Linked DNA regions of Homo sapiens. The protein of the gene in region 1 interacts with the protein of each later gene in a biochemical or structural test. Each region holds a gene or a part of one and is shown on either strand. Other genes may lie near its edges. The genes, in order: KATNB1 and CAMSAP3.

Region 1 (5,183 bases):
CAGGGGCATTCCTCCATGTTACTGATGGGAAGGAAACTAAGGCTGGAGAGAGCTTCAAAGGCTATCAAAGCCTTGCCCAAACCATGCTGGGCTTCCAGGTTACTGCTGGGCACCACCCACTGCCCACTCTTTGCCCTGGCCTTTTCCCTCTTCAGTGAACTGGCCAGAGGTCCACGCCACCTTCCTCCAGTGCCGAGGACCCTGACCACCCCGGGGCGGGGCTGTACCTGGTCCCTGCCTTGGGAGCAGGAGGGGGCCCACCTGTCGCAGTGCCCACGGAGCAGGGAGCCCTTTCCCGCCAGCCAGTGCTGGGGACTCCAGCAGGGAGTGACAGCTGATCGGAGCCCTGCTCAGAGGAAGGGGCAGGTGCCCTTCTAGTCCTGCCCCTGGAGGCATCCTGGGGGTGTCCATAAGACAGCTTGAGTGTAGCTGAGGTGGGGAGGAACGGGCTGGTGGGGGCCACCCCTAACCTCAACACCCAGTGGTGGAAGGGTGGTTGCCGCCTCCCCTTCCTTCCCAGTCTGCACTGGCTGAACTGGTGCTGTCCCAGAGGCCTGATTCTCTGCTGCCCCCTGCTGGCCACATGGCCCAGAGCCCCACCCCCGGGCTTGGAGGGGGTGTGGCCTCATCTCAAACCATGGGGCAGGCACTCCTGGGCCCGGGGAGCCCTGTGGCCAGCAGAAAACATTCCCCACAAGGAAACCTGGGAATAGTTACAAATTTAATAAAATTTGCCTTATAAATTACAGCAGCAGCCCCAGGGCTCAGTTCGCTGCCCCAAGAAGCAACAGTTGGGCAAAGCTGGGCAGCTATTGCTGGAGAGAGTTGTCTCAAGAGTTCAGGGCTGTAGAGGTGGCCAGGGACCAGCATCACCTCCTCCAGGACGGCCACAGGACAGCAGCAGGGGCCAGGCAGAGGCTCATGGGCCAGTGGGTGCACAAGGAACAGGAGTGGGGGCTGAGGCCAGGCCCTGTGGGCTGCCGAGCGCCCCTGCCCACTGCTTTCCTCAGTCCAGACTGGCCATGAGCAGGTGCAGCTCGCGGAAGGTACTGCCATGGCGGCCGCTCAGGCCTGACTTGCTCTTGACCAGGCCGCTGATGCTCTTAAGCTGCTTGTAGCAGAGCCGGCACTTATGCAGCCTGTAGAGAGGGCAGTGCCTGAGGGGCTAGCTGGCACCACCACCACCCACACCCAACCCCAGGGCCTTTGCTGTCCTAACTGCTCCAGCCCTTCCTCCCAAGGGAAGGCGGAGGCCCAGAGGGGAACCACCCAGGCCCTGCCAGGGATTGTGGGCACAGCCAGGCCATGGAGGAACCCAGCTCTGGCTAAGCCCACCCACACCCTGAGCCATGGCCCCAGACCAACGCCTCCTCTGTACTCTGTCCCAGCAGGACTGTCAGTAAGAGGGGCCCAGGCCTCCAGGCCTTTGTCCCCTCACCTGTTGTGGCACCCCTGCCCCCAACACATGCGCTGCCCTCACCTCTCCTCCCTGCTGATATCCACACCCACAGAGGGTGGGGCCGCCAGCATGTCTGTGATGAGGGGCAGAAACCGCTGCAGGATCAGCTTCAGGGAGGTGCAGCCCGTCTGGACGTAGCTTTAGGGGGAGATGGATGAAGTCACAGATGGACCAAGGGCCACAGACAGAAAGAGAAACAGCAAGGAACAAAGGAGGAGAGGGGCAGAAACAGACACAGACACACCCACACATACACCCACACACGCCTGTTTCCACTCCCACCTCCGGACTGTTGAGGGGCAGCAATGCTTCACAGCCAGCTCACAGGAACACCCAGGCTCTTGGGGGTCCTTCCCATGGTTCTGGAGGAGGCTTCTTACCTCTCCCCTCCCCCTGCTTCAGGCAGGCATGGCTTCCCCACACGCACCTCTCATACTTGCTCTGCAGAAGCTTCTCAATCTGTGGCAGGACGGTGGTGCACAGGTCCAGCTTCCACAGGGAGCTAGGAGAGGCCAGGACATGCTGCCATCAGCCCAGCCCTGCCCCTCCGCCCACTCCCCCTCTGCAGCCACTTACGCTTTCTGGTTGACGATGTTCAGGAGGTCCACCACCACCGACAGGTCGTTGATGGCCACAGCGGAGTCCACCGACGTCTGTGCAAACAGAGCACCGTCAGGGGTGGGGCAGTGGGGGACAGTGTGGCCCTGTGAGGGTGAGGGTGGGGGTACGAACGTGAATGTGGGTGTGCTGATGGGGCTGTGGGTATTCAGCACTGCACCTAACGCAATGAGTGTAAGGCCAGGCATGTAAACAGATGCTCACTAAACGGCAGTCTGTGATGATGATGATGATGGCGGAAACAGATGGTGTGACGTCAGGGATGGCCTATCCCACACTGTCCCCCATGGGTGGCCTCTTCTTGTTCTGCCCCAAGCCCGGGCAGGCAGGTGGCAGGGGCAGGGGGGCGAGATGAGGCCCTGTGCAAGGGTGGGCACTTGCCTTGATGTCGCCCATGGTCCACACAGCCCGCACAGTGTCCAGGTTCTTGTGGCGGCTGGTGAGCACCACACACATGGTGTCGTGGCCTTTGCGGATCTGTGACATGGCATCCTCGTCCACCAGCTCGGCCTGCTGGGGGATCTTCACGGCCTGCGTGGGATGGACACCCAGATGCTGGCATGGGAGGAGCCAGCAGCAAAGCTCTGCCCTCCACCCACAGACCTCCACCCATGCCTCGAGCTGGGCTCCTACTCACGGGCAGGAAGTCGGAGGCCTTCAGCCCGATGGGCTCGTTCCGGGTGGCAGGGATGATGGCAGGCTCAGCCTTGGGTGCAGGTGTGGAAGCAACCACTGGGGGCCGGGGCAGGACCTCCAGCTGAAAGTGTGAAACTCAGCGGTTGCCGGCCTGGGGCCTCCCTCTCTGCCTCCCGAGGCACCCCCAACCCTGGGTCAGGACCTTCTCTAGGCCCCACACCATGCTCCCTCCATGGACATACATTTGGCACCGGGAACTGCACATCCATGGCAGGGCTGGGCTTTGCTGCCTCCTTTGCTGTGGCTGCGTCTGGAGGCAAAAGGAAAAGATGACTGGGTCCGGCCAGAAGGGCCTGGCAAGAAGGGCAGGGCTCAGGGCGGGACTCTGGGCAGCATCTGCAATGGGGGGATGGAGCAGGAGCATGGGGGAGGCTGCAGGCCAGTGGCGTGGGGGTTCCAGAGGACCTGGGGCAGGCCTGGACCTGCCTCCTCCCTCTCCCCCAACTCAACCTTAGGTCTGCCTGTGGGTGGGACCCAGGGGGCTCTAGGATGTGGCCATCCTGTCCCTTCACTGGCATGTATGTGGAGGGGGCTGGGATGACTGGCAAGATGGAAGTGGAGGCTCCTAGGAAAGCCAGGACTGACGGCAAGGACGGTCCCTGAGGGGAGGGCAGGGGTACTCTACAGGACAGGTGGCCCCATGCCTGCCCGTTCTCCAACCACAGTGCAGATCATTTTTCTCCCTTCTTAATCCAAACCCCCAGCTGAGGCCTTGTGGGCCTGACCTCTTGCTGGGACTCGCCCCAGCTCACCTCCTCTCAGCTCCCTTCCTGCCAGAAGCACTTCTCTCTCTCTCTTCTCACTGGCCCCCAGGCCTTGACAGGCATTGGGCCTCCTGAGAGCCTCCCGATCATCCCGTCTACAGCAGACCCCATCTAAGGTGGGCCCCCAGTGACTCCTCTCCATCCTCCACAGCCCGAGTGCCCCTGGCAGGCCCCCCAGTGTGGTGGTGTCCATGTTTGTCCCCCACACACCAGGGCACAGGCTCCTACGGGGGCACTATCGGTCTTGCAGGGACCTGGCACATAACAGGCAGAGGGCAGAGACCCAGCGGGAGAGGGTGTGGGTCGTGTCCTGAGAGGGGAGGGTCCTGGGAAGGGGCTTGTTGGGAGGGTTCACAGGAAGAGAAGATGAGGGACGGGGGGGCATCAGAGACCTTGGGAAACCAGGCTCACCCAACTCACCGTCCTCTGGGGGTGCAGGGAAGGGCTCACTTCTCCGGGGTGGCGTCCGACCTGCAGAGGAAAGAGGCCCCTGGCTGTGAGCGCTCCTGGCCAGGCCACCTGGGACCCAGGGCCCTGTCCAGAGTGCGGGGGACGGAGGGTAGCTCCCAGGCATGCGGCTGCAGACTGTGGACCCTGCTCCTGGTCCCAGGAACCCTCAGTCCTGCCCCTCCCAGCCCACTTGTCCCTGGCAGGGCAGGGACTGGGACACTGAGCAGCTGCTGGGCCGCTGCTGGGGAGTGCCCAGGCCCCCCTCTCAGTTCCATCAGAGCACAGCCTGGCAAGGCCCAGGGAACGTGAGGACAGGATACGGAGCCCAGGTGTGGGTTAGGAGGAAGTTAAAGGGATGCGGAGCCACAGCAGGCTACCCTGGAAGGACCCCCAGCCTCCCTTTCACCGATGGGGACGCTGGGCTGGGGGCGGGAGCCCGGCCTCACTGATGCTGTTCTTGGGCTGGAAGATCTCGTTGTAGTCCTCGGCGTTCTGGATCTCCGCGCGGGACTCGCGCTCGTCCCGGTCATCCTCGCTGCTGGGGCTGCGGCGCTCGCTCTCTGAGTTCTGCTTCACCCTGGGAGCGTGAGGCCAAGCCCAACGGAAGCAGGTGCCCTGTGAGGCCCAGGGCTGGAACTCCGAGGCTTCCCCTGTGACAGTCCCTCTCCTGGGCCCCCGAAGGCCCCCCAGGCCCTCACCTCTGAGGCTTGCTGCAGGTTGTGCTGGGCCGCTCATAGATGCGCCGGAGGGGGGCGCTGGGGTTGGGCAGTGGCTGTGCCAGGGGCCGGTGGTCCTGCACAGGGTCCCGGGCCACCGTGCCAGTCCTGGTGACACGCGTCAGATCCACCACGTAGGAGGAGACGTTGCTCTGGGAGAAGGCCACACCTATCTGCAGAAAGCGGAGAGGTGGGGCTGGGACTGCAAGCCGAGGGGGCAAAATCCCAGCCCCAGTGTGGGGGTAGGAGGAGGGGCCTGGGCTGGAGGGAGGCGGGTGGCCCTGTGGGAGTGGGGGGCGGTGGGTGCCATGGCTCTCTCACCAACTGGTCATTGCAGATGGCCAGGTCGGCCACCTTGCCCCAGTTGACGAGGACCACATCAAAGCACCGCTCAGGTTCCCAGCCGTAGACACGCAGTGAGTCCTGGCAGCCGCTGTACAGGCAGCAGCCGTCTGGGTTGAAGAGGACGCTCCTGGGCCA
Region 2 (7,348 bases), on another chromosome or scaffold:
GTCATTTAATCCTTACGACACTTATTATTATACCCCTTGTACAGATGAGAAAACCAAGGCCTGGAGAGCTGAGATAACTTGTCCAGGATAAAAATGTCCAACATGAACTTGAGTTTCCCTCACACATCACACATCTGTTCTGAAGGCATAAAGAACTGCATGGGGTGTTTTCCAAATGTGTTTAACATGGAACCCTTTGTTTTTTGAGACAGAGTCTCTCTCTTTCACCCAGGCTGGAGTGCAGTGGTGCAATCTCGGCTCACTGCAACCTCCGCCTCACAGGTTCAACAATTCTCCTGCCTCAGCCTCCCAAGTAGCTGGGACTACAGACGTGTGCCATCATTCCCGGCTAATTTTTGGATTTTTAGTAGAGACGGGGATTCATCGTGTTGGCCAGGCTTGGAACCCTTTCTTATCTAATCTCCAAGCTTGTGTTCTGCTTTTATTTCTGCACAGCCTTCTCACACCTGTGCCTTGGAGTTGCCAGAACTATCCCTTCCTCTGAGCCATCACTACTCCCACGGGGCCACTGCATACCTGATCTTGTCAGTTCCCAACACTGTCCGTGGCTCCCCAGTACCCTTGGATCCATAACCAGGGGCCTGAAGGGCCTTCCTCAGTCTGACCAGCCTCCCTTATCTCCCACCGCCACCCCGGGGACCTGCATCTTATTCTCTGAGAACTCCCTGCTGGTCCACACTCCGAGCCTTTGCCCACTGCCCACACATCTCTTCTCCGTGTCAAACTTCCATGCATCCTTCCAGACTCAAATCTTTCCACCTGTGGGATCTCTTCCCTCCCTGGAAGATTTCAAGAATTTCTTTCCCCAGGCCCCGCTGGCCAGCTTCCCTATGATCTGGTTTCCTGCCCATCCCCCTCTGCCCCATATCCATCCCCTGCCGTCTCCTCTACACCCTGAGCGCCCAGCCCAGCACCTGATAGGTATCATACCGTCAAGAGTCCCCAGAGCTCATGAATCTTGTAGAACTCTGCTCCCATTTCCTTCAGCCCTTCTCCTCTTTTTAGGGGAGTGGAACAGGGAACAGATTGAACTTGACCCTCACGGTAGAGGCAGCCACTGCCGTGTGTCACACAGCAGAGGGAGCTGGGTCAACAAGAACAGAACTGGGTGAGTCAGGGCACTGGGAGCTCACCAACACCCCTCATCAGAAGTTTGCTTTGCTGTCTTCAAAATGGGATAATTTCTACTCTGATTCCTGGCCAGGGGATAATGGATAACGTTAATATTATTCATCAAAATATACCACCGCCAATCACACCAGCAGCGAGCAACCGTTTCGCATGTATCACGCGCCCCGTGCCACGCGAAGAATTCTGTGGTCACTACAGCTTTTACGCCTCCCAGCAACCTTGCAAAGAGGTAACGGGGGGTCTCCATCACTGGAGCAGTGCCCTACACATAGCAAGTGCCCCTGCCCCACAAACATTCGCAAAACAGATAAGTCTGTGAATGAACGCCTTCTTTTATAGAAGGGGAAACAGAAGCTCAGATAATTGGGATAATTCGCATTCTGGTGCAGCTGGACTTCACATTCAATTCTGACACTCCACGTTGAGTTCTCTACAGCCTGGTAACCTTGGAAGTGAGGAGCTGGGGCTGTCCTGGCTGTCCAATGCCCAATCTCTTTCTTCCTCAAGCAAATATCTGCAGGGAGGTAGACCCCAGAGTGGGAAATGCATGCATGGAACGACGCAGACAGAGACTGTCTGGGAGAAAGAGGGACAGGCTGGGGCGGAACCAGGAGACGGACAGCTGTCACTGAGACCCACACCCAGAACAGGTTGATCTGGGAAGGCCAGGGAGAGGGGGGATGGGCTGTGCCAACACCAGTGGGCAGAACCAGTGGGAGAAAAGGATGTACCCCCACAGCTCCCCGCTGGAAAGCCCAGACCTTAATTAACCCCTGTCTTCTCTGGCCAGGCCCTGACTCCTAGCTCTGGCCTGGGGTTGTGAAGCTGCCCAAAGCCGAGACTGAGTGTTTCCAGGGCCTCTAATCCCGGGGACCCGGGATTACGGCATCCTCCCCATTAGGGTGGCTCGGGCTCTCAGGCAAGCGGGCCTGGGGGAGGGAGTGAAGGATCTGCTCTAATGGGAGAAGGCCCCGCAGCCGGGAGGAGCGGGGGGCCCACCCCAGGCGATCTTGTACTACCCATTTCCCTTCAGCTGGGCTCGCCAACCTCCCCAGTAAAATGGGGCCATAAGTCGCAGCTGCCAGGCGCTGGAGGGGGCTATGGAGGCGAAAGGGGGTTCCCAGAGCTCCCCGGTCGCCGCCCGCAGCGCGGCCAGGGCCGACGCGGGGTGTGTGTTGGGGCCTGGGGGTCGTGCGGTGGTGGAGACCGGAGCGCTCGAGACCCCCCAGCGAGGTCGGGGTCTGGGTCTCCAGGGTGTGTGGCGGGGGAAGAGACCGAGAGGAGATCCTCGCAGGGGCGTGATGTGTGTAAAAGAGAAGAAGGCGTGCAAGGGAAGGCCTTGGGGGTGCGGGAGGCGGGAACGAGAGGTCCGCACGGGGAGACCCCACCCGGCCCGCAGACCCCGCCCGGCTCACCTGGAGGCTTGGACGCCGGGGACCCCCGCGCGGAGCTGGGCCGCGGGCCCCACCCCCACCGCGCTCCCGCAGCCGGCGGGGCAAAGTCCACCGCCCGGGCCGAGCAGGAAGCTCGGAGGCCCCGGCGCGGCAGGGGCCCGAGCCCGGGGACCCCCGGCGGCCGGCGCTATTGTTCCCACGGCCCCCTGCCTTCCCGGCCCGGCGCCCCGCCCCCCCCCAGCACCTGCCGCGCCCGGCCCGCCGCCCCCGACCCCGGTCCCCCGAGCCCCGGTACCTGCGCCCCCGAACGCGGCCCGCAGCACCCACGCCAGGCTGGCCGCCGCCTTGGCCCGCGAGAAATCGTACTGGTCCAGCGACTTGATCTCGGGCACTAGAAAGGTCCTCCGCAGCGGCCCGGGCCCGGGGGGCGCCGCCTCCACCATGGCGGCGCCGGGGCTGCGGGCGCCGGGTCCGCGCTCGGACTGGGCTGGGCTGGGCTGCGCCGCGCTCGCGCCCCAGCCGGGCCCGCTGCTGCTACCGCCGCTGCCGCCGCCGCCGCCGCCGCCGCTGCTGAGCCAGGTGCGGCCGCTTGCGCTGGCGACGCTGCGTCGGGCCCGCCCCGGGGAGGAGCCCAGGTGCGCCCCGCCCCCGAACCCGGACCCGGACCCTGGCGCGCCCCTGCGCCCCGCCCGGGCCCCTCACTGCAGTGTGCACGGAGCAGCAGGGGCGGGGCGGAGGGGGGCGGCCTGGACTGCGGCGATGGTGGAGGGAGCTTGCGGAGGACTGAGTGTGTATGTGTGCGCGCGCGCGTGTGTGAGTGTGTGCGCGCGCGCCTAGCTTACTGGAAAGGATTAGGGACCCTCTGTGTGTGCCAGCCCCAGTGTCTACCCTTAGGCGTAGGAGCTCCTGCAAGTGCTTGCAATAAACGCCGGCCCTCAGGCAGAGAGTGGTTGGGTGCACCTGTTTCTGATTATGTTAGTGAAGGCACAAGAATATGAGTGTCTTCGTATCTGTGTATCTCTGAATACATTTGGGTGGTGACCAAGTGTATTGGGGGGTGTCTAGGGGTGTGTGTGTGTGGGGTATGTATCTGGGCACGTGTAAGTGTGTGTTTAATTTGTTGTGTGTACAAGGATATGTATTATATAGATGTCTGTATCCTGAGGATGGATGGAAGTGATGAGTGTGTGTCTGTTTTTTGTTTTTGTTTTTGTTTTTGTTTTTGAGACAGGGTCTCACTCACTCTGTCTCCCAGGCTGGAGTGCAGTGGCGCGATCTCGACTCACTGCAACCTCCGCCTCCCAGGCTCAAGCGATTCTCCTGCCTCAGCCTCCCGAGTAGCTGGGATTACGGGGTTGCGCCACCACTCCCGGCTAATTTTTGTATTTTTAGTAGAGTTGGGGTTTCACCATGTTAGCCAGGCTAGTCTCAAACTCCTGACCTCAGGTGATCACCCGCCTCAGCCTCCCAAAGTGCTGGGATTACAGGCGGCAGCCACCGTGCCCGGCTGTGTGTGTGTTTTTGGAGTGCTGTGAGTATGTCTATCTCTGTGCATCTGAACGTACTGGTGTGTTGTATGAGGCTGTTATTGATGCCTCTGTCAATGCAGGAGTATGGAGAGACATTGAGAGTGTGTGTATTTCAGGCCGAGAGCGGTGGCCACGAGTGTAATCCCAGCACTTTGGGAGGCCAAGGCGGGCAGATCACTTGAGGCCAGGAGTTCAAGAGTAGCCTGGCCAACATAGCAAAACCCCGTCTCTACTAAAAATAAAATTTTTAAAAATTAGCCGGGCATAATGGTGCATGCCTGTAATCCCAAGTACTCGGGAGGCTGAGGCGGGAGAATCGCTTGAACCAGGGAGGCAGAAGCTGAGATAGTGCCACTGCACTCCAGCTTGGCCAACAGAGTGAGACCCTGTCTCAAAAAAAAAAAAAAAGTGTGTATATTTCTGCAAGAGTGTGACTATTTGTGTCTATGAGTGTCCTTGCGTAGCTGTACTGGGTGTATTTGCAAGTGTCTTTGTGTATTATTCTGGTATCTGCAGTGTGTGCTGGGAGAAGGCTCTGTGTGGAGGTGAGGCTGTGTGTCTAAGTGGGTTTGTATTTGAGTATGTGAATCTGGCTATATGCACATGGATGTGTGATTGATTGATTGATTGATTTTTTGAGACGGAGTCTCGCTCTATCGCTCAGGCTGGAGTGCAGTGGTGCGATCTTGGCTCACTGCAAGCTCTGCCTCCTGGGTTCATGCCATTCTCCTGCCTCAGCCTCCCGAGTAGCTGGGACTACAGGCACCCGCCACCACGCCCGGCTGGTTTTTTGTATTTTTTTTTAAGTAGAGACCGGGTTTCACCATGTTAGCCAGGATGGTCTCGATCTCCTGACCTCGTGATCCGCCCAACTCGGCCTCCTGAAGTGCTGGGATTACAGGCTTGAGGCACCGCGCCCAGCAGATGTGTGATTTATGATGAGCAGTTCCTGACTATATTTTTGTGCATATATGTGTGTTTATATGTGAGTATCTTTGTGGATTTGAATATATGGTGGGTGCCTGTGACAGATTGTGTAGGCATGAAAGCAGGTATACCTGTGCAAGAATGCCTGTTTCTGCTGGGTGCAGTGGCTCATGCCTGTAATCCCAGTGCTTTGGGAGGCTGAGGCGGGTGGATCACCTGAGGTCAGGAGTTCAAAACCAGCCTGGCCAACATGGTGAAACCCCATCTCTACTAAAAATACAAAAGTTAGCCGGGCGTGGTTGCCCACACCTATAATTGCAGCTACTTGGGAGGCTGAGGCAGGAGAATCGCTTGAACCCAGGAGGCAGAGGTTGCAGCAAGCTAGGATTGCACCACTGTACTCCAGCATGGGCGACAGAGTGAGACTCCGTCACATTAAAAAAAAAAAAAAGAATGCCTGTGTCTGAATGCTTTTGTGAGAGTTCAAATGTGCATATTTATCTAGGAATTCATATCTGTGTAAGCAAATGTATTTCTGTGTATGAATCTGATTGTGTCTGTAAGTATGGAAGTGTGTGTGAACGCGTTGAGTACAAATATTTGTGTACATGAGTGCAATTGTGTGTTTATTTGTAAGGTCTAAGCACCGATTTGTGGATTTTTGGTTTTTTTTTTTCTGTTTGTTTTTTTTTTTTTTTTTGAGACCGAGTCTCGCTCTGTCACCCAGGCTGGAGTGCAGTGGTGCAATCTTAGCTCACTGCAAGCTCCGCCTCCCGGGTTCGCGCCATTCTCCTGCCTTAGCCTCCCCAGTAGCTGGAACTACAGGCGCCGGCCACCATGCCCAGCTAATATTTTGTATTTTTAGTAGAGACGGGGTTTCATTGTGTTAGTCAGGATGGTCTTGATCTCCTGACCTCAGGTGATCCACCCGCCTCGGCCTCCCAAAGTGCTGGGATTACAGGCATGAGCCACCGCGCCCAGCCGGATGTTTTTAATATTTTAATATTTGCTTTTGTTCTATTGTTTGTTTTGTTGTTGTTGTTTTATTTTTTTTTTGGACAGGATCTCACTCTGTCACCCCAGGCTTGAGTGCAGTGGCACAATCATGGCTCACTGCAGCCACCATCCCTGGCTAATTTTTTGTTTTGTGTAGAGATGGGATCTCCTTATATTGCCCAGGCTGATCTCAAACTCCTAGGCTCAAGGGATCCTCCCACCTCGGCCTCCCAAAGTGCTGGGATTACAGGCATGTGCCACTGTGCTTGGCCCTCCATTGTATTTTTGTCAAAATATCCCCTGCATGCCTCTTAGCTGTATATAATTGTGAATGCACAAGTGTTTGTGTGAGTTCGTTCTTTACAGGCCTGGAAAGAAAAGTGTGTTACTTTCGGCCAGGCACGGTGGCTGAAGCCTGTAATCCCAGCACTTTGGGAGGCCGAGGCAGGTGGATCACTTGAAGTCAGGAGTTCAAGACCAGCCTGACCAACATGGTGAAACCCTGTCTCTACTAAAAATACAAAAATTAGCCAGGCATGGTGGCACATGCCTGTAATCCCAGCTACTTGGGAGGCTGAGGCAGGAGAAGCGCTTGAACCCAGGAGGCAGAGGTTGAAGTGAGCTGAGATCTTGCCACTGCACTCCAGCCTGGGTGACAGAGCCAGACTCTGTCTCAAAAAAAAAAAAAAAAGAAAAGAAAAACGTGTGTTACTTTCAGAACACACACACACACACACACATACATAGGCACCTTGTCACCTTGTGAACAGGAATAAGTGCTCACAGACTCACACAAATATTCACAAATTCACACAAATGTAAATGTCAGCTTCATGCACACAAATGCACTCAGAAAGTGATACGTAAAAAGATAACATACAGGCCGGGCACAGTGGCTCACTCCTGTAATCCCAGCACTTTGGGAGGCTGAGGCAGGTGCATCACCTGAGGTCAGGAATTCGAGACCAGCCTGGCCAACATTGTGAAACCCCATCTCTACTAAAAATACAAAAATTCCCTGTGTGTGGTGGCTGGCGCCTGTGATCCCAGCTACTCAGGAGGCTGAGGCAGAAGAATTGCTTGAACCCAGGAGGCAGAGGTTGCAGTGAGCTGAGATCGTGCCACTGCACTTTAGCCTGGGCGAAAGAGCAGGACTCCATCTCAAAAAGAAAAAAAAAAAAAAAAGACCGGGCCCAGTGGCTCACGCCTGTAATCCCAGCACCTTGGGAGGCTGAGGTGGGCGGATCACCTGAGGTCCGGAGTTCAAGACCAGCCTGACCAACATGGAGAAACCCATCTCTACTAAAAATAAAAAAAAAATTAGCCAGAGGTGGTGGTGCATGCCTGTAA

The links.
Region 2: the proteins of KATNB1 (region 1) and CAMSAP3 form a complex in vitro, tested with the Homo sapiens proteins (one study listed by BioGRID).

What each region holds. Positions count from the first base shown.
Region 1 is NC_000016.10:57,752,770-57,757,952, reverse strand, and holds the end of KATNB1 (katanin p80 WD40 repeat-containing subunit B1), read right to left. Parts: intron 5,176-5,183; coding exon 5,025-5,175; intron 4,877-5,024; coding exon 4,686-4,876; intron 4,565-4,685; coding exon 4,434-4,564; intron 4,009-4,433; coding exon 3,958-4,008; intron 3,024-3,957; coding exon 2,956-3,023; intron 2,835-2,955; coding exon 2,715-2,834; intron 2,609-2,714; coding exon 2,459-2,608; intron 2,113-2,458; coding exon 2,036-2,112; intron 1,962-2,035; coding exon 1,887-1,961; intron 1,598-1,886; coding exon 1,481-1,597; intron 1,140-1,480; coding exon 1,007-1,139; 3' UTR 709-1,006; downstream 1-708.
Region 2 is NC_000019.10:7,591,644-7,598,991, reverse strand, and holds the start of CAMSAP3 (calmodulin-regulated spectrin-associated protein 3), read right to left. Parts: upstream 3,130-7,348; 5' UTR 2,990-3,129; coding exon 2,842-2,989; intron 1-2,841. UniProt on the Homo sapiens protein: Key microtubule-organizing protein that specifically binds the minus-end of non-centrosomal microtubules and regulates their dynamics and organization.